3 linked regions of the Homo sapiens genome follow. The protein of the gene in region 1 interacts with the protein of each later gene in a pairwise test. Each region holds a gene or a part of one and is shown in the gene's direction. Other genes may lie near its edges.

Region 1 (8,317 bases):
GTGATCCCATGGGACTTCCTGAAGTGAGTTTCAGTACTGTATTAGTCCGTTTTCAGGCTGCTGATAAATACATACCTGAGATGGAGCAATTTATAAAGAAAAAAATGTTTAATGGACTCACAGTTCCACGTGGCTGTGGAGGCCTCACAATCATGGTGGAAGGCAAAAGCACATCTTACATGGCGGCAGACAAGAGAGAATGAGAACCAAGCAAAAGGGGTTTCCCTTTGTAAAACCATCAGATATTGTGAGACTTATTCACTACCATGAGAACAGTATAGGGGAAGCCGCCTCCATGATTCAATTATCTCCTATTGGGTGTCTCCCACAACACATGGGAATTACAGGAGCTACAATTGAAGATGAGATTTGGGTGGAGACATGACAAAACCATATCAAGTATTATCTACCTGGAGGACAAAAGTGGGGAGTTTTCATCCTTTGGTTTGCATTCTCTGTTGCCTACACTTGACCCCACTTCTGGGTGGTACATATGTGAGTGCAGAGAAAATTAACATGGACTTTCCTTGCCATGGCATCAGAGAAGACCTAGCAGGAAGCAAGGAGCACGTGAGTTGCCTCAAAGTGAAGGAAGCACTTTGGGACTGCACCATCATGAAACTGGCTTAAGTGTGTGCAAAGAGGCTACAGTAAGAAATGAAGTGAGACAGTTTCGAAGTAGTGCACAAGAATGTTCGATGTGCTTGGCAAAGATGCTCCCTGTTTCGGACTTGGCTTCTCATCAATCAGATAAGAGAATTGTATGAGAAGAATTTAAAATGCAGCACTGGAAGTCTAATTACCAACCTGAGATAGTGCTGGCCTAATGTTACACTCCTAATCCCCCAGACAGGCAGATCAGACCAAGAAGAACTATGTTGAAAGGGCATAAGCACAGGTCAATTAAGTCATGTTAAGAGAAGACCTATCCACTTTACCTGTCTCCTACATAGATTCCAGTATCCTTACCCCACAGAGTACCTAGTAGGCCCTGAACAATTCTGGATCAGGGAAGGATGATACATCTTGGGAGACTCGGTGCCTTCTCTCTTAGGCCCTGTACATAAACATTACTCATGTCTGGTTACAAATGGGTCTCCCTCTCTTTATTTGGAAGGCCAGGACTGGAGCCCATGCCAACGACACATGGGCTTTGCCACATGGGAGTTAGTTGTGCTGAAAAACACTTGGGATTCTACTCACCTTTCTTGACAGCACCCTGATTTTGATCTCCATTGAAGACACACATGAAAAACCACATGAATCTGAAAACAGGCATCAACAGAGAGAATGGTTCAATTTAGAATTTTTCAACCTTGACACTGTCCTCTGAGGGTTTATTTTTACACAAGTCATGTAGCTGGTGATTGCTATTTTCGGGTTCAAAAAGCAGCAACTATTTTGCTGGTCTTTGCTTGTTTCTTTCACCTTCTGCTTTCTGCCCTAGAGTTCCTTCCAGCCCAAATTATTCAACCCTTCTTATGATTGATGCTTTTTGAAAAGAGATTGGAAAATGAATTTCAGTTCCATTTTGTGGTGCAAATCACTGAGCCTCCAGGGCTTTATAATGTCTTGGTTAATAAAGATTCTGGAGATTCAACCCAGAGGTCCGTGGGAAGTTGGAAAGAAAGCAGAACAACTCAGCCAAGATGTATTTAATTTTTAAAACAACCATTAAGTTCTACACTTAAGCTTCTGAATTTCCTTTTTATATTTCTTAAGAGACAATGAATAGCTTCAATTTGAGAGGGTGATCATTCTGAAAAAGTGCAGAATGACAGCATTTCATTTCATATATATTAATTTTTCCACAAGTTCACTATTCCTCCATTCGATGAGGCTAAGTGGTTTTCTCTGAACTGGCGTTGGTCAACATTATTATCAAATTTGTGATGAAAAATATCCTTTCTGCCTATCAAACCTCCAGCCTCCCTCACATGCTTAGCTCATTTTACTCTCAAATGCTTGGCCTTGTAAATGATTGCTGTGATTCAGTTTTGAGTGAAAGAATTGCTCATTTCCAGCCTGTGATAATTATTGTATAAGGCTTAGATTGTTCTATACAAATGAGAGCAAATTATCCATCAGTGATGAAGATAATGGGTAGTAGTTCCTCGATCTCTCCTCATCTGCTCCTATTACCCATCCCCTCACTTCACGCTCTGCAGACATGAGAATAATAATCTTCACAAGACTTTTTGCTGAGTTGAAGTTTGAGGTTGTGCCTAACTACATAGTGACAGCAATTGGCCGTGTAATTTTTTCTTACATTCCAAGGAAAGGATGATTTATTAATTTCATTGAACAACATTGTCAAATTAAAATTGTGTAGAGTTTCATCAAGCTTATGTGACTGTCAGTACATGTTTCTTTACTTTTGCAACATACAGTGAATGCAGATAAAGAGTCAAAGTGCTTGCATGTGACAATAAAATGCATGAGAGTATCAAGTAGCTTGCCTACCTCTGTGTGGCATGGTGTATTTTCAGAGAATAGCAGAGAAGTGTATCGATTTTTCACGTTGGCAAGACCTTTATGAGAAATGTTATTCACAAACTCTGAAATCATTTTAATATAAGACTTCAGAAATAATCTGCTTGTAGTCACAATGTAAGCTGAAGTTTCTTTTAATAATTAATCTAAGGGATCTACTCAACATTTTCCCTCTATTTAGCACCTGAAAAATGGCAGACTCTGGAAAATGGATAAGACTGAAAAATCAATTCACTTATCTGCTACGCTCTGAAAATTTGTTGTGTGCACAGCTATTATACATAATTATAATTTCAAACTATAGCTTCAAGCTATTAATGTTTCTCTATTCTTTTTTGCTTTGTTTGTAGTGACCTTGTGTCTTATTCTAAGGATTAAAAATTGTTAAATTGGATACAGAATGAACAAAACATACGAAGTAGGACAGCAGTGCTTGTGACTTACTATTTTATTTATTTCCATTGTTAATCAATTGATGAACCTAGAAGAGAAATGATTATATCCTTTATAATGTCATCAATGAAGTATTGATTGATTGATTAAAAATAACAAATTCTTGTTCACACTTGAAGGAAGGCATCTCATCACATTTAAATATCCTCAGTGTGAGTTGGTAGTTCAGAGACTCTGTTTTAGTTGAATCTCAACTTAGTCAAATATAAACTGCATGACCTTGGCGAGCCACCCAGGGTCCCTGAACTTCAGCTCCAGTATGTGACATGATACCTACTCCACAGAGTTGTTGTAAGAACTCAGTGAGATGAGTTGTACAAACCTTTATTTTTTTAAATTTTATTTATTTTTTTGAGACGGAGTCTCTCTCTGTCACCCAGCCTGGAGTGCAGTGGCTCGATCTTGGCTCACTGCAAGCTCCGCCCCCGGGTTCATGCCATTCTTCTGCCTTAGCCTCCCGAGTAGCTGGGACTACAGGCGCCCACCACCTCGCCTGGCTAATTTTTTGTATTTTTAGTAGAGACGGGGTTTCACCATGTTAGCCAGGATGATCTCGATCTCCTGACCTCGTGATCTGCCTGCCTTTGCCTCCCAAAGTGCTAGGATTACAGGCGTGAGCCACCGTGCCCGGCTGAGTTGTACAAACCTTTAACTCAATGCCTGGAAGAGAGTTGTGTGCTTAAAAGACACTCATTTTCTTTTTTCCTGAAGTGATGGAAGATATTTTCTAGGATCCTTTTATCTGTAATTTCCAGCTTTCAATGGGAGAGACACATCAAGACAAGGTAATAACTTATACAATTGTCTGTCATTCCAGGAATGTGGCAGTAGGCACTGAAACGTTCTCCTTTGTAACTCTACTACTCACTTCAGATTTTGGGAATTGCCACAGTTAAGTACTCTTCCATAGTAGCCTGTGAACCTGTGGCTGGGAGAAGCCTGTAAACTAGTAATCCATTTTACAACATGCAAGCCAGGCCCTAGGGCCAAGGACTCAGGCCTTCAAACACCAACTAAGATACCCTCTGTGGTGGGAAGAGCATAGCCACAACATTGTGGAAAGTAGTCATCTCATTAATTTCACCCCGTTCCTGGGAACACATGGTGAGTCACTGAGGGAGGGTCAGGACATTGAGGTCTGATATCTGGGAATCATGCTATTGCTCACAGCACCCTCTTCTTTGGGTGTGTCGTTAGTTTCCAATTAGGGATTTCTGATGAGTCCTGACATAACGCTGTTTGCTTTGTGGATATTTAAAACATAGCTTACCTGTAGCCCTCAAATACATGGAAATCCATTTTATTCCCTTACGCTCCCTCATGTAAGCTAGTTTAAAAATGAGTCAGATGCTACAGCTGTTTTGGGACAGAAATACCACTGACCACTTGAAGCGATGTTGAAGTTGCTTATTTTGCCAGAGTTGAGGCAGTTTATTCATCTATGTTCAGGTGGACCCAAACGAGCCATCATTCTGGTGTTTAAAATTCATTATATTGTAGTGAGATGAAATAAAATAGAGTGATATCCCTATAGCTTCCCCAAGCATAAAAAGAATAATTAAATATAGCACACTCTTCACACATCTCTTCATTACCAAACATTGATTAAGTGCCTGCTTCCCCCAGCTCTGCCTCCCCCTTATCCCTGATGGAGACAATGACCTTGAAGAGCCTTTAGTTTGTCCATAATTAAAATGCATTCTATCTATATGTGTGAAAATAAATATCTTTTGAACATATTGAACAAATTGGGAGAAAGACACTGTACCCTTTCAAATTAACATTATGATAATTTTAAAAATTAACTAAGCCTTTTCCACTGGCATATTAATGAGACCCAGGAGTCACTATTATCCACTGTTATTAAATTAAACATTTTAGGAATAAAGCTCATCCAATTTACTTAGAAAAGGTCTTGGCTACAAATACAGTTGCACTTAGTTAGCTTCTAATTTGCTTTGTTGGTTGAACATAAAGGGTGGGTCCCACTGCCCTCTAGCCTTCCCACGGGCATCTTGTTTGAGTCAGTTGATTAATTTTGAGAGCCAGCTCAGACTTTGGATACAAGTCTCTGTGCCCTTTGTTCCTGTCAAGTGTTGTCACTGTTGTCTTGAAACATATTCAAGGAGGCACCTTCCCAATGAGGAGCTCCGTTAGGTGTGGTAGAGTGACTGATTAAGTTATGTTTAAAAGATATTAAGTCCAGTGACAAATGAAACAGGGCATGGGCTTGTAATTGGTCCTGGTAGGGAGGGAGAGAGTGTGTGATGGTAGGATGGTGGCATCTTTGGTAGGATGAGTGTCAGGTCAACACTCATCATAAGCAAGATGAATGAGGGACAACGTGTGGGCTGGGATGACCAATAGCTTTGAAGCTGCCAACCAGCCTTCTTAATCAGACTAAGTACAGTACAGAAGACTTGTGATTTAGTTACCAAACTACTAAACTTTCTTTATGAGGGTGAAGGCTTCTTAAGAGACAATTAATGTGTAGATTCACAAGATGTTCTAAGGCAAACTGGTCTGAGCCAAAGAAGCCACGGAGACCAGGGAGAGAGCCCCACCCACCAGCAAGGATATATAAAAGCTCAGGAGTCTGGAGTGACATTCACAACTCAGGAGGTAACTTCAGCAAGCTACCTGCAGCCCTCTGTCTGACATCATGTCCTTCAACTGCTCCACAAGAAATTGCTCTTCCAGGCCCATTGGAGGACGCTGCATTGTTCCAGTGGCCCAAGTTACCACGACTTCCACCACTGATGCTGACTGCCTGGGCGGCATCTGTTTGCCCAGTTCCTTCCAGACTGGCTCTTGGCTCCTGGACCACTGTCAAGAGACCTGCTGTGAGCCCACTGCTTGCCAGCCAACCTGTTACCGGCGAACTTCATGTGTCTCCAACCCTTGCCAGGTGACTTGCTCTCGACAAACTACCTGTATTTCCAACCCCTGCTCAACTACCTACAGCCGGCCGCTCACCTTTGTCTCTAGTGGATGTCAGCCCCTGGGAGGCATCTCCAGTGTCTGCCAACCAGTGGGCGGCATCTCTACTGTCTGCCAACCAGTGGGAGGAGTCTCTACTGTCTGCCAGCCAGCCTGTGGGGTCTCCAGGACGTATCAGCAGTCCTGCGTGTCCAGCTGCCGAAGAACCTGCTAAGTGTGTAGGAGCCAGTGAGCGAATCAAGACTCCACGACCTGCCAGCTGTTTCCAGGATCTTCCAGCATGCTGCTTGTCCCTGAATAGCTCTTCATAGCTGACCCTTCTTGTGACCGCCTGACTGCTGGCTACTATCCATGCACACGCTGTCTTTAGCACTCTAAAATTTTTCTGGCCAGCCCTAAGCTTGTTTTAAGGGTTGCTCACTGGTGCTGTGTATGCCTCTGGATGTGTCCAGAAGCTTTACCATCCACACCCCAGTCTCTGATGCTTTTGACATGTTTTCACCTTGCTGCTGTATCTCCTGGCCTCTGCTTTTGTGTCTCACAAAAACAGAGCTTGTCTCACCATGTATTTCTCAATAAACCTGCATTAGTTGGCATTGCAAATGTATGTCTCAGCAGAATTCTTTTTTAAACATTTCAACTTTTAATTTAGTTTTTGCGGGGTACATGTGCAGGTTTGCTACAGGGGTATACTGTGTGATGCTGAGGTTTGGGGTATGATTGAACCCATCTGTCAGGTATTGAACATAGTACCCAATAGGTAGTTTTCCAACCCTTTTCCTCTTCCTCACTCCCCGCTCTTCCAGTTGCCAGTGTCTATTGTTTTTATCTTTATGTCCACGTGTACCTAATGTTTAGCTCCTACTTATTAGTGAGAACAGGTGGTATTTAGTTTTCTCAACAGAGCTCCTTGTTTGCAAGAGTCTTTGCTGATCAGGGTCTGATTTTTTTTTTCCTGAGCCTAGAATATGGGCTTAATCATTATGCCCTGTGACCAAACCAAGGATTATCTTATATTTTACTTGTTCAGAGAGAGTCTTCAGCTGTGCGGTGAAGTAAGGGCTATGATTTTTCTTTTCTTTTCTTTCTTTCTTTTTCTTTTTCTTTTTTTTCTTTTTTTTGAGATGGAGTCTCACTCTGTCGCCCAGGCTGGAGTGCAGTGGCACGATCTTGGCTCACTGTAAACTCTGCCTACTGGGTTCAAGTGATTCTCCTGCCTCAGCCTCCAGAGTAGCTGGGATTACAGACGTTCACCACTACGCCCGGCTAATTTTTGTAGTTTTAGTAGAGACAGGTTTCACCACGTTGGCCAGGCTGGTTTTGAACTCCTGAGCTCAGGTGATCTGCCGCCTCGGCCTCCTAAAGTGCTGGGATTACAGGCCAGGGCTATGAGATTTCTAGGAGTAACTTGTCTTCTACGTCTCCTTCCATTTCTAGGGGCACATGGAATAACTTACATTTAGGAAAAAGAAAAGTTACCCAGAAAACCAGGTATTTCAGAAAGATGTGCAGGGAAGGGAGCAGTGGGATCACTGAGAAGTGCTGAGTCTTATTTAGTTAGAGGATCACAGTAGAAACCTTTGGAAAAGATTCCTCCATGATCAATCGGGATGGAAGGAGAAGGAGAAAGAAAGAGAAGGCACTTTTCAGGCCCTGAAATTAATCACATCAAAAGAGTGGCTCTAGCTTTATACCCACCTCACTCATGGTAGTGGATTAGTAGAATCTGCCAACGAGGGATACCAATTGACTGTTCGAGTCAGAGCCCTGAGAAAATTAAAGCTCTGTGTTTTAGTAAATCTGGGCAGGAGAGACTTAAAAAGAAGCTTAAAAACCTGTTGGCTTATATTAATACTTAGTCATACTTCTTGCTCGTTCTTCCCTGGAACTCGTGTACTAAATAAATCAAACCATCTGGATAGGTGGAGGTTGACATGCTAAGTCCTTTTGCCATTTTTTTTTTTTTTAAGGAAGTGAAGACTGGCTACCAACTGGTTTGCTTTTGCCCTTCTCATTTGTTCTGTCCAGAAAAACATCTTGATTTTCTTTTCAGAGTTGCTCAAGGAGATACAAAAGCAGATGATTTTTACACAAAATGGAGACATATGAGGTACACATGCCATCAACAATGGGTGTCTTTTTTCATAACAGAAATGCTGGTGTCTTGTGGAGAATTTGATCTCACTCTGTGTTGTCAGTGCAAAATGGATTTCTTATTTCTCTGATGGTTTTTCAGAGGTGAAATATATAGATTATTTCCATATAGATGCAATATTTTTAATTTTTCCCATTGATGGCTCTACTCTTAGGATTCCCCTAATTGGATTATGTTAGTATGCATGGCTCATGGTAATATCTCAACAAAGCAAGACATGGTTTTTAGTCTATATTAGTTTCATGCCCTCTCTTTTTAAAATAAGCACTCTGGCTT
Region 2 (5,259 bases), on another chromosome or scaffold:
AGCCCGACCAACTGATGAAACCCCGTCTTTACTAAAAATGCAAAAATTAGCCGGCCGTGGTGACGCGCGACTGTAGTCACAGCTACTCGAGAGACTGAGGCGGGAGACCCGCTTGAACCCGGGAGGCGGAGGTTGCAGTGAGCCAAGGTCGCGCCACTGCACTCCAGCCTGGGAGACAAAGTGAGACTCCGGCTCAAAAAAAAAAAGTGGGGAAGTCCGCCCTCCTGAGCTCATGGTAACCTCAGCCTCCTCCCCTCCTCCTACCACAGAGAGAGGGAGAAAGAACTTGTTTTCATTCATAACTTTTTCCTTTTCCTTCTTCCGTCAACTATTTATTCAGTGCGGATTGCAGAGGGCGCAGCTCCACCGTGGTAACTTGCAATGTGGCCGCCCCTGCGCTGGCTTCTTTCTCCTCGGCCCTCGGTGAACCCAGCTTTTCCTTTAAAGCATAGACAAATCCTTGCTTAGGGTCAGCCAGACCGTGGGCTTGCTTTGGGCTCCCGCGTGGACGCTGAAGGCTCTTCATGATTTCTCAGAAACCTTGGTGGGCCACCCAAAAAGTGTGTTGGAAATCCACGGTGATCCTTAATATGGTGATGGGATTGTCCGAAAAGGTATTCTACTTCCATTCGCGTTTTCTTGGGGAAGGCAGTGTGCCGAGCGCGTGTGAGCGTGTTTGGGGCTTGTCCAAGACTGTCACTGCTTGAAAATGGGCTTTTCTTCGGATCGGAGGTGGCGAATTTTCTTTGCTTTTAATTTTTTTGTCTGGCAACTTTATTTCCCAGCCAGTATGAAGTTTGTTACAACTATCATTGGAAATGCAAATTGAAGTTGTGCCTGGTGTTATGGGTTACACTATTCAAATCCTCTGCGGTTTTGTGAATCTGGCTTAGTACTTTTAGCTACCTTTTGCTTTGAAAGCACTGAGTTAAGAAGTTCTTGAAGAAGAGGAATAATTGTGCAGGAGTCAGGATTAGATGTTGAGGACTCCGAGACTAAATCCCCGCAGGTTATGAATGTGTTACTCCTCATGCGCAAAGAAGGTAGAATAAAGTAGAAACTCGAGAGAGCTGAGTTGTGAAAACGAGGGGGAGCTCCAAGAAGTTAACATGTAAGACATAGTTTAGAGACATTAGTTTAGGAAATATAGGAAATGGACTTCTTTCTGCGTTGTTCCTTAAACCATGTTTTTTGCCTCAGGTTGGTAGTGGAGAATGGACATTTCTTTTTCTTTTCATTCTTGAATTGGGTCGACTCTGTAGACTTTAGAAGGAATTTGTGTGAAAAATACTCTAGTTCACCACTGAAAGCAGAAACTTTCATCTTTGGCAGTTTGTGAAGAACACATAAATTAGAAATAACTTACTATTAGTATGGAAACACAACTGCTTATTTTTATCTGGATATTAGTGTGCTGATTTTGTTACAAGAAGAACGTTGAATCAGAATTGGCAGTGCGTTTGAAAATCAAGGTCTGTCATGTAAATACAGATTTTTAAATCAGAGGAAATACAGATAATTAAAACTGCCAGGATTTCCCTACACTGCGTTAAAGGCCTCACACTTATTTGTGCATAAAACTTACTTTGTTTTGTGAGTGAGCCCTTCAGCTTAAAAAAAATCCTCTCAGGATTTCAAATATGAGTACTGTTATATATCATTCACTGGACTATACATTGAGTCTTGTGTGTGTGTGTGTTTGTAGCTCCAAAACACCAAGAATCGTTGTGTACCTGATACATTTATTTTTGCATCTCATAGATGAATAATAAGGTAGTTTTAAAATTCTGATTTATATAGAAAATTACCTATTATTTTGCGATTTCATTTTAAGAGTCTCAATTTTTTAATGCCTTAATTTTTTTCATCATTAATCTAATGCATATAACAGCACACAACAAAAAGGCTGTAGCACCAAAGCCATTCTCAATTTCTTAAAAGGTAGACATTTTCCTTTATGGAAGCCACCTATGAACTGATAACTGAGCTTTCTTTAGATGAGAGTTATTCTCCTGCTTATACTCAGTATTCCCTGCGAAGGCATGCTCCATTTTAATTATTAGATTCACAAACAGGAAGGCATTACTTTCTCCTGATTCTGCTTCTTAAAAGTTGGAAAAACTTATAATGTTCATGGCATGGGGTCTCTTGTTTATAGTCTTCCTCTATGATGTGGTCCCCAGCCTCTCCTAGAATTGGACTCTGGCCAGGACCCCAGCATCATTGTAATCCACTGATGAAGGAGGTCATTACTAGGCGGTTTAGGCAATTTGTGATTTGACAGGATTCCCCCCCCCCAAAAAAAATGCTTCCTGTCATTTATTTTCTGTTTTTTTCATCTTTGATTTCGTTTTAGGATTTCAGATGCATGCCAGGTTTCCACTGATTGCCAGAACTCGAGATCACTACACATGGATCCCCAAAATCAACATGGCAGTGGCAGTTCGTTAGTTGTGATCCAGCAGCCTTCTTTGGATAGCCGTCAGAGATTAGACTATGAGAGAGAGATTCAGCCTACTGCTATTTTGTCCTTAGACCAGATCAAGGCCATAAGAGGCAGCAATGAATACACAGAAGGGCCTTCGGTGGTGAAAAGACCTGCTCCTCGGACAGCACCAAGACAAGAAAAGCATGAAAGGACTCATGAAATCATACCAATTAATGTGAATAATAACTACGAGCACAGACACACAAGCCACCTGGGACATGCAGTACTCCCAAGTAATGCCAGGGGCCCCATTTTGAGCAGATCAACCAGCACTGGAAGTGCAGCCAGCTCTGGGAGCAACAGCAGTGCCTCTTCTGAACAGGGACTGTTAGGAAGGTCACCACCAACCAGACCAGTCCCTGGTCATAGGTCTGAAAGGGCAATCCGGACCCAGCCCAAGCAACTGATTGTGGATGACTTGAAGGGTTCCTTGAAAGAGGACCTGACACAGCACAAGTTCATTTGTGAACAGTGTGGGAAGTGCAAGTGTGGAGAATGCACTGCTCCCAGGACCCTACCATCCTGTTTGGCCTGTAACCGGCAGTGCCTTTGCTCTGCTGAGAGCATGGTGGAATATGGAACCTGCATGTGCTTAGTCAAGGGCATCTTCTACCACTGCTCCAATGACGACGAAGGGGATTCCTATTCAGATAATCCTTGCTCCTGTTCACAATCACACTGCTGCTCTAGATACCTGTGTATGGGAGCCATGTCTTTATTTTTACCTTGCTTACTCTGTTATCCTCCTGCTAAAGGATGCCTGAAGCTGTGCAGGAGGTGTTATGACTGGATCCATCGCCCAGGGTGCAGATGTAAGAACTCCAACACTGTCTATTGTAAGCTGGAGAGCTGCCCCTCCCGGGGTCAGGGTAAACCATCATGATTTTTGGAGGTGGGTTGTACCTCCTGAACTTTTAGCTTTCAAGTTGTGGCTGTTTTTTGTTTTTGTTTTTGTTTTTGTTTTCTTTAGAATTTTTCCCTGTTTCCCACCTTCTCTTCCCCTGTTGCCAAGGTCTAACTCATGGATTTTTCTCTTTCCTCATGGATGATCTTCAGCAAGAGTGGACTGGGAAGCTGCACCTGGCTCCCACTTTCAACAAGAGCCTCTGCCATCCACTTGAGGGTATTGAGAGCCAGTGGGCTTTTGTGTAGCCTTTTTGTTCTGCAAGCAACTTTCTAAAGTTGTGTACATGAACATACACCCACATCCAGACTACAGTGATTTAGAGTTGTTTTGATTGGGTACCGTGGGAGCAGGGAAATTGGTTTTTTAAAAAGCAACTGTTTAATTGCTTAAATAAGCTATGTATTAAATCTGTCTCCAGTTAGGGCTATCTTCCTAGCATAGGCCCCTTAAGTAGCATGGGGGATATATTTTTTGCTATAACGTAAAAATTTTCCTTTAACCACTGCCCTCTCCTTCTTTCTCCTTCAAGGTTCTTTCCCCCTCAGTTTTGTTGTTGTCTTACTCTGGAGATGCCAAGTGTATTTTTTCTTTCTATGTAATTTTAGATTCGCCTTACAATGTAAATCTTCACATTGGAGATAATATTGGTTGGACCTTGCCCATCTTCACTCTAGCCTTCGTATTTGTGAAGGACTCAGCCACCTTCCTTCTTCACCCCATGCTTCTCACCAAATTTTTGTTGTCATTGAGGGCACTTGGATAACTCAAGTTGATATTTATAGCTGATCAATCTATATGTGTCACAGAACTATGCTGCCTAAAGTGATCTTGGCTCCTTAATGGTCCTTTTGGCCCCTTGGATAGTTAACAGCTGAGTAATTCTAATCTCTTCTGTGTTTTCCTTGCCTTAACCACAAATTGTGGTGCTTTTTGTATATTTTATGTATAAATCACAAAGTTGAATTCTGACTATTTTTAAGACAAAAGTCTGTTAAACTTTTTTATTGTAAAGAATATTTATTATGCGAATCTCTATTATTTTATGGTATTTATTGCAAAAGACTGTTGAAATGTACTCATGTTTGAATATAACAAAATATCAATACTTAACGGAAAATAAGGTGACACGAAGAAAGTACATATGTTAACTATAATGCAGAAAATATATTAATTAATGAAACTGTCTCTCGATTTCTTCATTTATTAGCCTGTACTATTATGATGATTTTTGCTTATTTGCTTTGACTTTTTCTTCTTACACACCCATTTTACTTCTTTCCCTATAGATGTTGAATCTAGACATAGGTGAGCCCAAATTATGAACTGGATAATTAGGTTGGTGCAAAAGTAATTGCAGTTTTGGGTCATTTTTAATGGCAAAAACACAGTTACTTTTGCACCAACCTAGTATTTCCTGGAAAGTGCATTAATCAAAATTTTGTAATCCAAATTATCTTTTAACAAATGCTCAAGTGAGTTATTTTGTACAGTAAAAATTTTTTGTAATACTCTCTCCCTACTTTGACTATTTTGTAAGCATGAGGTTTTGTGTATATTATAGTTTCTTGAAATGGGGCATATCTACAGTAGAAGCTTTTTTAAATGTTTATCCTAACTTTTAAGTTAATAAAAAGTTAGATTTATCAGCTAGACTTAATGAACTTAGTTCTGTAGATATGCTAGGAGTCGCTGGTACTGTCACTTTAATAAAGCATTCTAGAAGTTACCAAGGGAATAATTCACAGTATCAGAGACATTTCAAAAACATTCCTGTCCCTGTCTTTTCACTTGTTTCGTAAGTCTAATGTGGCCTGACCAAATTACACCTCATCAAGTCCTGTGCAATAAGAAACCTGAAGGCCTA
Region 3 (7,798 bases), on another chromosome or scaffold:
GTGGCAACGGTAGACATTCTTGTGTCCTGCCTATGGGTAGATAGAAGCTTTTTTCATTTTATTTGTTTGATAGTTTTCTAGCAAATTTATTTAATTAGTAAAAGAATCGAGAGAGATAAAAAGAAAAAAGAAAGTATATAATCATTACAAAAAATTTTATTTAATTAGAGGAATCAGTATAAATATTTTAAAGAACCATATATATTTGCTATATCAAAAAGGAATATTTCAGTATACATATTTATGTAAATATAGATATATTACATATATGAAATAAAAAGAATATAAAGAATACATACAATGAGAGAATTCTTTTTCTAAAATAAACTGATGACAGATATTTTAATGCAGGGGCAGCTTTTGCTTACTATTTCCCATTGCATATTGAAAAATATAATTTTTAGGTTAGTTTATTTCTATCCAACCATTGAAAAATTGGTAGGAAAAGTAACACAATATTATGAAGCATTTAGAAAACTGTGAAATCTTAAATCAATTGAAATTCTATAGTTTAAATACAATAGTTTAATGGATTTTAAAATATCGATTTTAAAATTGATATTTTATGATTGCTACTATTGATAAGAATACTATTTGACGTTTGTATCAGGATTCATGGCCTTCAAATCCTTTACATATATATAACTTCAATTTTATTTCATCTAAGAATTAATTGCTGTCAATTAAGGATAAAATAAAACTTTGACTTTATTTGGATTGTTAATGTAGCCAGGCTCTTCTATTTAAAGAATGAATGTTACAATTAAACAAATAAAGCATTTATATGCAAAGCCCCACTCTCACAAACTGATGCTGAGCTGGACATTAACAGAAAAAAGAAATTAGTTTCACGGATAAGAATGAACACTTGTGGACAATGATGCCACCATGTAGATAGGTTTTAGGGTTTTTTTTTTTCATAGAAAAACAGAGCTGCTTTCTAATGTGCCCGAATATTCAGCAGAGAGTGTGTGCATATGGTTAAAACAATACATGTTTTAGGTAAATACACATGCACCCGAAGAAGCAGCACTGTGATTTGACTAATAAATCATAATATTCATTTAATTTTTTAATGGAATTTAAAACTAGGAATAGTTTTAGAGGTTATTTAGTTCGATTCCCTCATTTTACACATACCATATGTTTCTATGGTGTTTATACTATTGAAGTTAAATATAAACATGTTCAAATCTGTGCAGAGGTAGATTATGAGAAATAAAAGCAATCATCTATTCATCAGCAAGGCACATTCACTTACAAAGTATGAATTATCTATTCATCAACAAATCATAACCATACTGATACGAATTTTAAATAAAAGCAAAACACATATTTATAAATAACCATCCTGAAACGATAACTAGAAGTTCATAGTATTTCTGAATATTTCAGTACTCACCTTATACAAGAACAACATATTCACTGCTAGGGGAAAGGGACCAATTTATTGAATGGTGCATTTATAATTTGAAGCTATAGATATTGAAGCTAGTAATTACATTAGAAATATAGAGTCTGGGGTATGTATTTTGCTAACATTTGAAAAATTACTGGGTATTCTGGAGTGATTTATCTATTTCTACTCACATTCATTTTCCAGCATGCGTTTTTTTCAAAGTAAAAAAAAAAAAAAGGTATGATCAAGGATCAGGTTTTGCAGACATAAAGATGACAGAGAAAGCTCATTTCGTCACTAGAATAATACATTTCATATCTTTAGCATTATCTCCTTATATGTAATTCGCATTGAAGTTGATAATAAATGGAATATGTGCTCAGTGAAAAATGTTTGGAAATACTGAAAAGCAGAAATAAGAAAATGACAATTAACTATAAACGTATTACACAGAAAAACAATACAAAATACATTTTTGTAATTTTTTTACTCTAGATATCCCTCCCTGCCTTTCCCCACCAAATGTATGCACACGCATATCTATATGCTAGATATCCCTCCCTGCCATTCCTCAGAACATATATATGCACACACATGTCTATACCTGTATGTTTTTCTTATGCATTCTGACTCTGCAGCTTACATGATTTGTGACTTTTGGCAAGTAACTTAATTTTTCTGTGCTTTAGCTTTTTAATCTTTACAATATGGATAGTATTAATAGCCATGTTATAGAATTGTAAAGATTAAGTGAGGTGATAAATATAAAGTTTTAGAAACATGTCTGAAATAATGTATATTATTATTAGAATTATATTTTTAAACATTTTAAATTAACAAATCTTTCTCATTTTTAATTGAAAGATTAACCCACTACTAGTATTTTGTAATATTTTCACTAAGCCATAATGAAATCTTTTCCCCTCATGATAATGGTGGTAAACGGAACATCTAAAAAATATGTTCCATGCAAAATGCATCTTCACACAGACTTATTTTGCCATTTTAGTTTGATTTTTGAAGACATGAGTTCAGCACATCTGCCAAATCCTTTTATAAGATGCTACATTCCTGTTTTTATTTTAGTTTATTTTATTTATGAAAAGTTCTTTTCTTCTCCACTCCACCCCCAGACAGTCATTCCTCTCTGTCCTAAACCATAACACTGCTGTACATTGCATTTTTAAAAATAAACCAAAACTGGGAAGAAAAACTTTTTAAAAAAGTAATTCTCCTGTTGGCCTAGCTAGATGAAAAAACAAAAAGCAAAACAAAAACAAAAGCAAAAACAAAATCTTGTATTGAAAATATACTATTTGATAATGGGCTTTTATGTTCGTTTGCCAAATGTAGAATCACAGAGTTTTTGTTGTATTTTTTTTAGTGTGGGAAGGAGGCAACTGGTTTGGGGAGGAAAAAGATGGAGTAAAACAGATGAAGAAGAATCAGTTTGCAAACATATGTTAATATTTAGATTCTTTTTTTAAAAAAGTGAAAACTTAACTAGTGAATGCTTTTCTACAAACTGTCTTTGATACTGTGTTTTGTTTATTCCATCCCAGAAGAAGTTAGCGGTATTCAGCAAGATGCAGGACTCTCTGGAAGTCACCCTTCCCAGCAAACAAGAGGAGGAGGATGAGGAGGAGGAGGAGGAGGAGAAAGACCAGCCTGCCGAGATGGAGTACCTTAACTCTCGCTGTGTCCTTTTCACTTATTTCCAGGGAGACATTGGGTCAGTAGTGGATGAACACTTCTCAAGAGCTTTGGGCCAAGCCATCACCCTCCATCCAGAATCTGCCATTTCAAAAAGCAAGATGGGGCTAACCCCCCTATGGCGAGGTAAGAATTCAAAAGCAGATGTTCTCCAGGGCACTGTCTTTGTTTCGCAACTGCCTGTACCAGGTTCCAGCTGGAGACTTGCCCCTGAGGATGGATATCCACTTGCTTTTTAATATTTAAGGACAGTGAGGAATTTCTTTCAGACAAACAGCTGGATCGGTTTTGTCACATGTGGAATGTAGGGTTGGAAAGGATGCAGTCACACCCCTTAAATTCCTCATGGAAAGTAGTGATACAACCGGCTTGAGTTTATAGTGGCTGCACTGAGCTGCGAAGTACCATTCCTAAAGCCCCAGTGGCCCAATTTGGATCTCTAAATAATAGGCGTGTCTAAATCAGCTTTTAAAAAATTAGCTCTTGCTCATTCCAATAGGTGCTATGTGGTGACATACCAGAGACCTGAGTCTGACCCAGGAATACAGACATTGAAAGCTGTCTGTGTTCTTTGAATAGGCTTCTTTATCCTGATTTGTTATTGTATTAACTCTTTATAGTATACACTCTAGGCATTTTGGCAGCATCCACATGGCTTAAACTAGTGTTTTTACCTTGATAAAGAAAGAGCAGCACATTGGACTCCTTTATTTCTCTCTGTATCGAGCTCACAGAGATGTGTTTGAAACTGATTTCTGACTCATAGAAAATTATTGGTGACATCTAAATCAGGGTAATTACAGGGTTAGATAAAAACATAATACGTCATTCCAATGACAGCTTCAGAGAAATTTGCTACAGTGGTGATTTCTTCCAAATTCACCTGGTTATAGGAATGATCTAGTAAAATGGTTCTCGAGGTGTGATTTTCCTGACCAGGAACATCAGTGCCACATGGGAGCTTGTTAGAAGTGCGAATTCTTGGGCTCCACCCCAGACCTGCAGAATCAGAAGCTCTGGGGTGGGGCAATCTGTGTTTTAACCAGCCCTCCCAGTGACTCCAGTGCAGAGTTTGATAATCATTGATCTAGTCCTGTTAAGGACAGTTTGCAGGACCCCCTTATCTCGAATCTATTGAACTAGAATCTTCATAGGAAGGTGTGGGAATCACACTTTAACAAGGGCTCTGGGTAATTCCTATCATGAGGAAAAGCTGGCTACCTGTGGGCAGGGCCAGGTGAGCAGTGAGCAGTGACTAGTGGTACCTTCTGGGCAGCACAGGAATGGTTCTGCTCTACTGTAGAAGTCCTGGCCACATGGAATTGCTGGGCCTGATCTTTTCTTACCTACTTGACCTTTCTTTTCTTCTCTCCCTCCCTCCCTTCTTACCCTCTCTCCTTCCTTCCCTCCCTGTTTGCCTCTTCTCCTCTCCTCTCCTTCTTTTTTTTCTTTGCTTCTTTACTTTTCTTTTTAGTAAATATAAACAACACTAAACAGTGACTATAAAGGGGAAGGTGGAATACAAATAAAATATCCAAGGCCTTGATGGAAATGAACTGAAAAACATACTAGTTATTTGATTAGTAAATAATATGGGCTTACTATGAGAACTGAGACTTAGTCCTTGGAAGCCTATGATGCTTATGTAATAGACTAATGTCCTATTTAACAGGACGTGATGAATAATTTTAATAATTTGTAGAGGAAGAAAATAGGAAAACATTAGTGAGTTAGATGGCTTTAATAAATAATTTGATATATCAATAATGAATCCTATTAAGATAATCAGTGCCAGGAGAGTAATAAATATAATGTCTACTTCTTTTAGCACATGGGCATATGCAACCTTGCTATCATTTAAACTGAAAAATCAGAATTAATGTCCCAAATTATTTCTTGGTGTGAGAGTGATTGTCTATAGAATCATATTCAAAATAATTTTTAGTGGGATGTTGTGAATGTGCAGAAACCCTACAACACATCAGCATTTTCTCTGTAATTTGCAAAACACATTACACAAGTTCCTTTAGCAGATGTTAAACTGTAGCATAGAAAGGGTTAATAAAGGCAATGTTTTCATAACTACTACTAAAGTTTTCTTGGAACTATCTTAAATTTGATCTTCAAATATGTCTCCTGTTTTATTCATTGACATATTCAGCAAACATTTATTAACCTCCTGCTATGTGTTAGGCAATGTGCTAAGTCCTGAGACAGCCCAAGGCTCTACCCTCATGGAGCTTTTAGGGTAGAAACAGGAAACAAACAATTGTTACAAAATATGTTATTTTACATAAGGTGATAACAAAAGCCCTGTGTGGCACAGTTATGTTTGAGCAGATAGCTGAAGGAAATAAGAATACTCATCATGTGGTTACCTAGGGGAAAGTAATTCTACACAGAAGGGACAGATAGTGCAAAGGCCCTGAAGATGGACTGAGCTTAGAATATTCAATGAGAAGCAAAGATGCTGGTGTGAGGTGAATGAAATGCAAAGTAATAGGTGGAGAACAGATGCTTTAGAACTTTTTTTTTTTGAGATGGAGTTTCGCTCTTGTCACCCAGGCTGGAGTGCAGTGGTGCGATCTCGGCTCACTGCAACCTCCGCCTCCCCAGTTCCAGCGATTCTCCTGCCTCAGCCTCCTGAGTAGCTGGGATTACAGGGACCCTCCACCATGCCCAGCTAATTTTTGTATTTTTTTGGTAGAGACGGGGTTTCACCATGTTGGCCAGGCTGGTCTTGAACTCCTGACCTCAGGTGATCTGCCCGCCTCGGCCTCCCAAAGTGCTCGGAGCCACACTTACAGATGTGAGCCACCGCGCCCCACTGTTTTAGAGCTTTTTACATCAGTTTATCAGCATATACCAGGAGCACACAGCATGCGCTTCAATTTTCATCTCCTATTATCCCACTAAGTCTACAAATACCATATCTTCTTATGGTGCCTCATTTTTTCTGATGCTCACAACAATGTGTTTCTATGTGGAAAATCTGAAATAGATATGCATTGAATGATTAAGTGACTGAATTAAATGAACCAATTTCATACCATGTATCCGGAATTAGAAAACAAGAGTCTTTAATAGAAAATTTCTTGGTAATAAGTTATATGAACTCTTTGGGTACAGTTTTTTTTAATTTATAAAATAAGGGGGTTAAATTAAATAATTGGTAAAAATATTTTCTTCTGTAAAGTTCTGTAATTTCAAAGGTATTATTTGCTTTTCTTAGATCTTTGTCATAATTGTCTTAAGTTGTGAATTAGACAGATTTAGATAAATATATAAAACTTGTGTAGGATTTATAGGAAAGCCACAAACGATAATTAAAAATATAGAAAATGTCTTAAAGAAGAGGTTCAATAAAATGAGACTCACATTTTTATTCTCATAAAATGAGAGAGTTGGTGACAATTTAATATTAATTGGCAAAGCTACACAGGATTGGAAAATACAGTCTTTGGAGTCCATTTGTTTTAGATTCATGTTCCAGCCTTTACCTTCTGGTTGCAATGTGATCTTGGATTACTAAATTGAAATCTCTTACATCAACTTCCTCAACTGTAATATGTGTTTATTGATACCCATCTCATAGAGTTATTGTAAAGATTTTTAAATAATGTATATGAATAATTTAGCATAGAGCTTGACTCAAGGTGCTAAATGAAAGCCAGATGCCTTTTCTCTCTTCCTTAAGTAAGTTTCCACTCATTTGACACATAGAAAACAAACCCTGAGCCTTTATCCAGGAACATTGTTTTCTGGAACTTTGTGTTTTTGGTACAAAACACACAGTCTTAGATAATAGTAGATACTAAAGGCTAATGATAATGTTAGTGGCCATGGCAATGATGCTTAGAAAGGAACTGCTGACCGAGTATTAAAGGGTCTAGTTTACAGCATAAAGTTATTACAGTGCCACAGAAGTGCTACCATGCTACAAACAAATTTAATAACTGAATCGTGTTTGACTAAGAATATATTTACACGGTAAATCTTTAGACAAAGAATAGTGTGTCAGCTAATAATGAAAGAATGGTTATACTTTGAATGTATATCTCCTTCATGAAGCTAGGTAAGTTTTTTTAGGTGTTTTTCAGCTGTAAGGCAAACAATGATAGGAAGTATATGTATTTTACTTGGCACAATGTCTTATCAGTTACCTCTAATCCTGCTATATATTCTAACAGGGTTGAAAGAATTTCATTTCTTTCCATTAAGAAAACCTAACTAGCTGGGCGTGGTGGCTCATGCCTGTAATCTCAGCACTTTGGGAGGCCGCGGCCGGGCAGTTCACCTGAGGTCAGGAGTTCGAGACCAGCCTAGGCAACATTGTGAAACCCCATCTCTACTAAAAACACAAAAAATTAGCCAGGCAAGGTGACAGCCACCTGTAATCTCAGCTACTTAGGAGACTGAGACAGGAGAATCGCTTGAACCCGGGAGGTGGAGGTTGCAGTGAGTCGAGATTATGCCATTGTACTCCAGCCTGTGTGACAGAGTGAGACTCTATCTAAAAAAAAAAAAAAATAACAAACCTAATGAATATGATTGGTCCCTTATCTCCATACAAATATATGTTTCTTGATACCCTTCTCCTAGAGTTATTATAAAGATTTTAAAAATAATCTATATGATTAATTTAGCACAGCGCTAAACATTGGTTTCAAATATGCCTATGCACTG

What was found. Proteins that work in one complex are often made in the same cells at the same time.
Region 2: the proteins of KRTAP11-1 (region 1) and SPRY1 interact in binary tests that used the Homo sapiens proteins (3 or more experiments, as listed by UniProt).
Region 3: the proteins of KRTAP11-1 (region 1) and VGLL3 interact in binary tests that used the Homo sapiens proteins (3 or more experiments, as listed by UniProt).

What each region holds. Positions count from the first base shown.
Region 1 is NC_000021.9:30,878,816-30,887,132, reverse strand, and holds KRTAP11-1 (keratin-associated protein 11-1), read left to right. Parts: upstream 1-5,552; 5' UTR 5,553-5,608; coding exon 5,609-6,100; 3' UTR 6,101-6,489; downstream 6,490-8,317. UniProt on the Homo sapiens protein: In the hair cortex, hair keratin intermediate filaments are embedded in an interfilamentous matrix, consisting of hair keratin-associated proteins (KRTAP), which are essential for the formation of a rigid and resistant hair shaft through their extensive disulfide bond cross-linking with abundant cysteine residues of hair keratins.
Region 2 is NC_000004.12:123,399,181-123,404,439, forward strand, and holds the end of SPRY1 (protein sprouty homolog 1), read left to right. Parts: intron 1-359; exon of another isoform or gene 360-614; intron 615-2,356; 5' UTR 2,357-2,411; coding exon 2,412-3,371; 3' UTR 3,372-4,575; downstream 4,576-5,259. UniProt on the Homo sapiens protein: Inhibits fibroblast growth factor (FGF)-induced retinal lens fiber differentiation, probably by inhibiting FGF-mediated phosphorylation of ERK1/2. Inhibits TGFB-induced epithelial-to-mesenchymal transition in lens epithelial cells.
Region 3 is NC_000003.12:86,973,966-86,981,763, reverse strand, and holds part of VGLL3 (transcription cofactor vestigial-like protein 3), read left to right. Parts: intron 1-2,961; coding exon 2,962-3,238; intron 3,239-7,798. UniProt on the Homo sapiens protein: May act as a specific coactivator for the mammalian TEFs.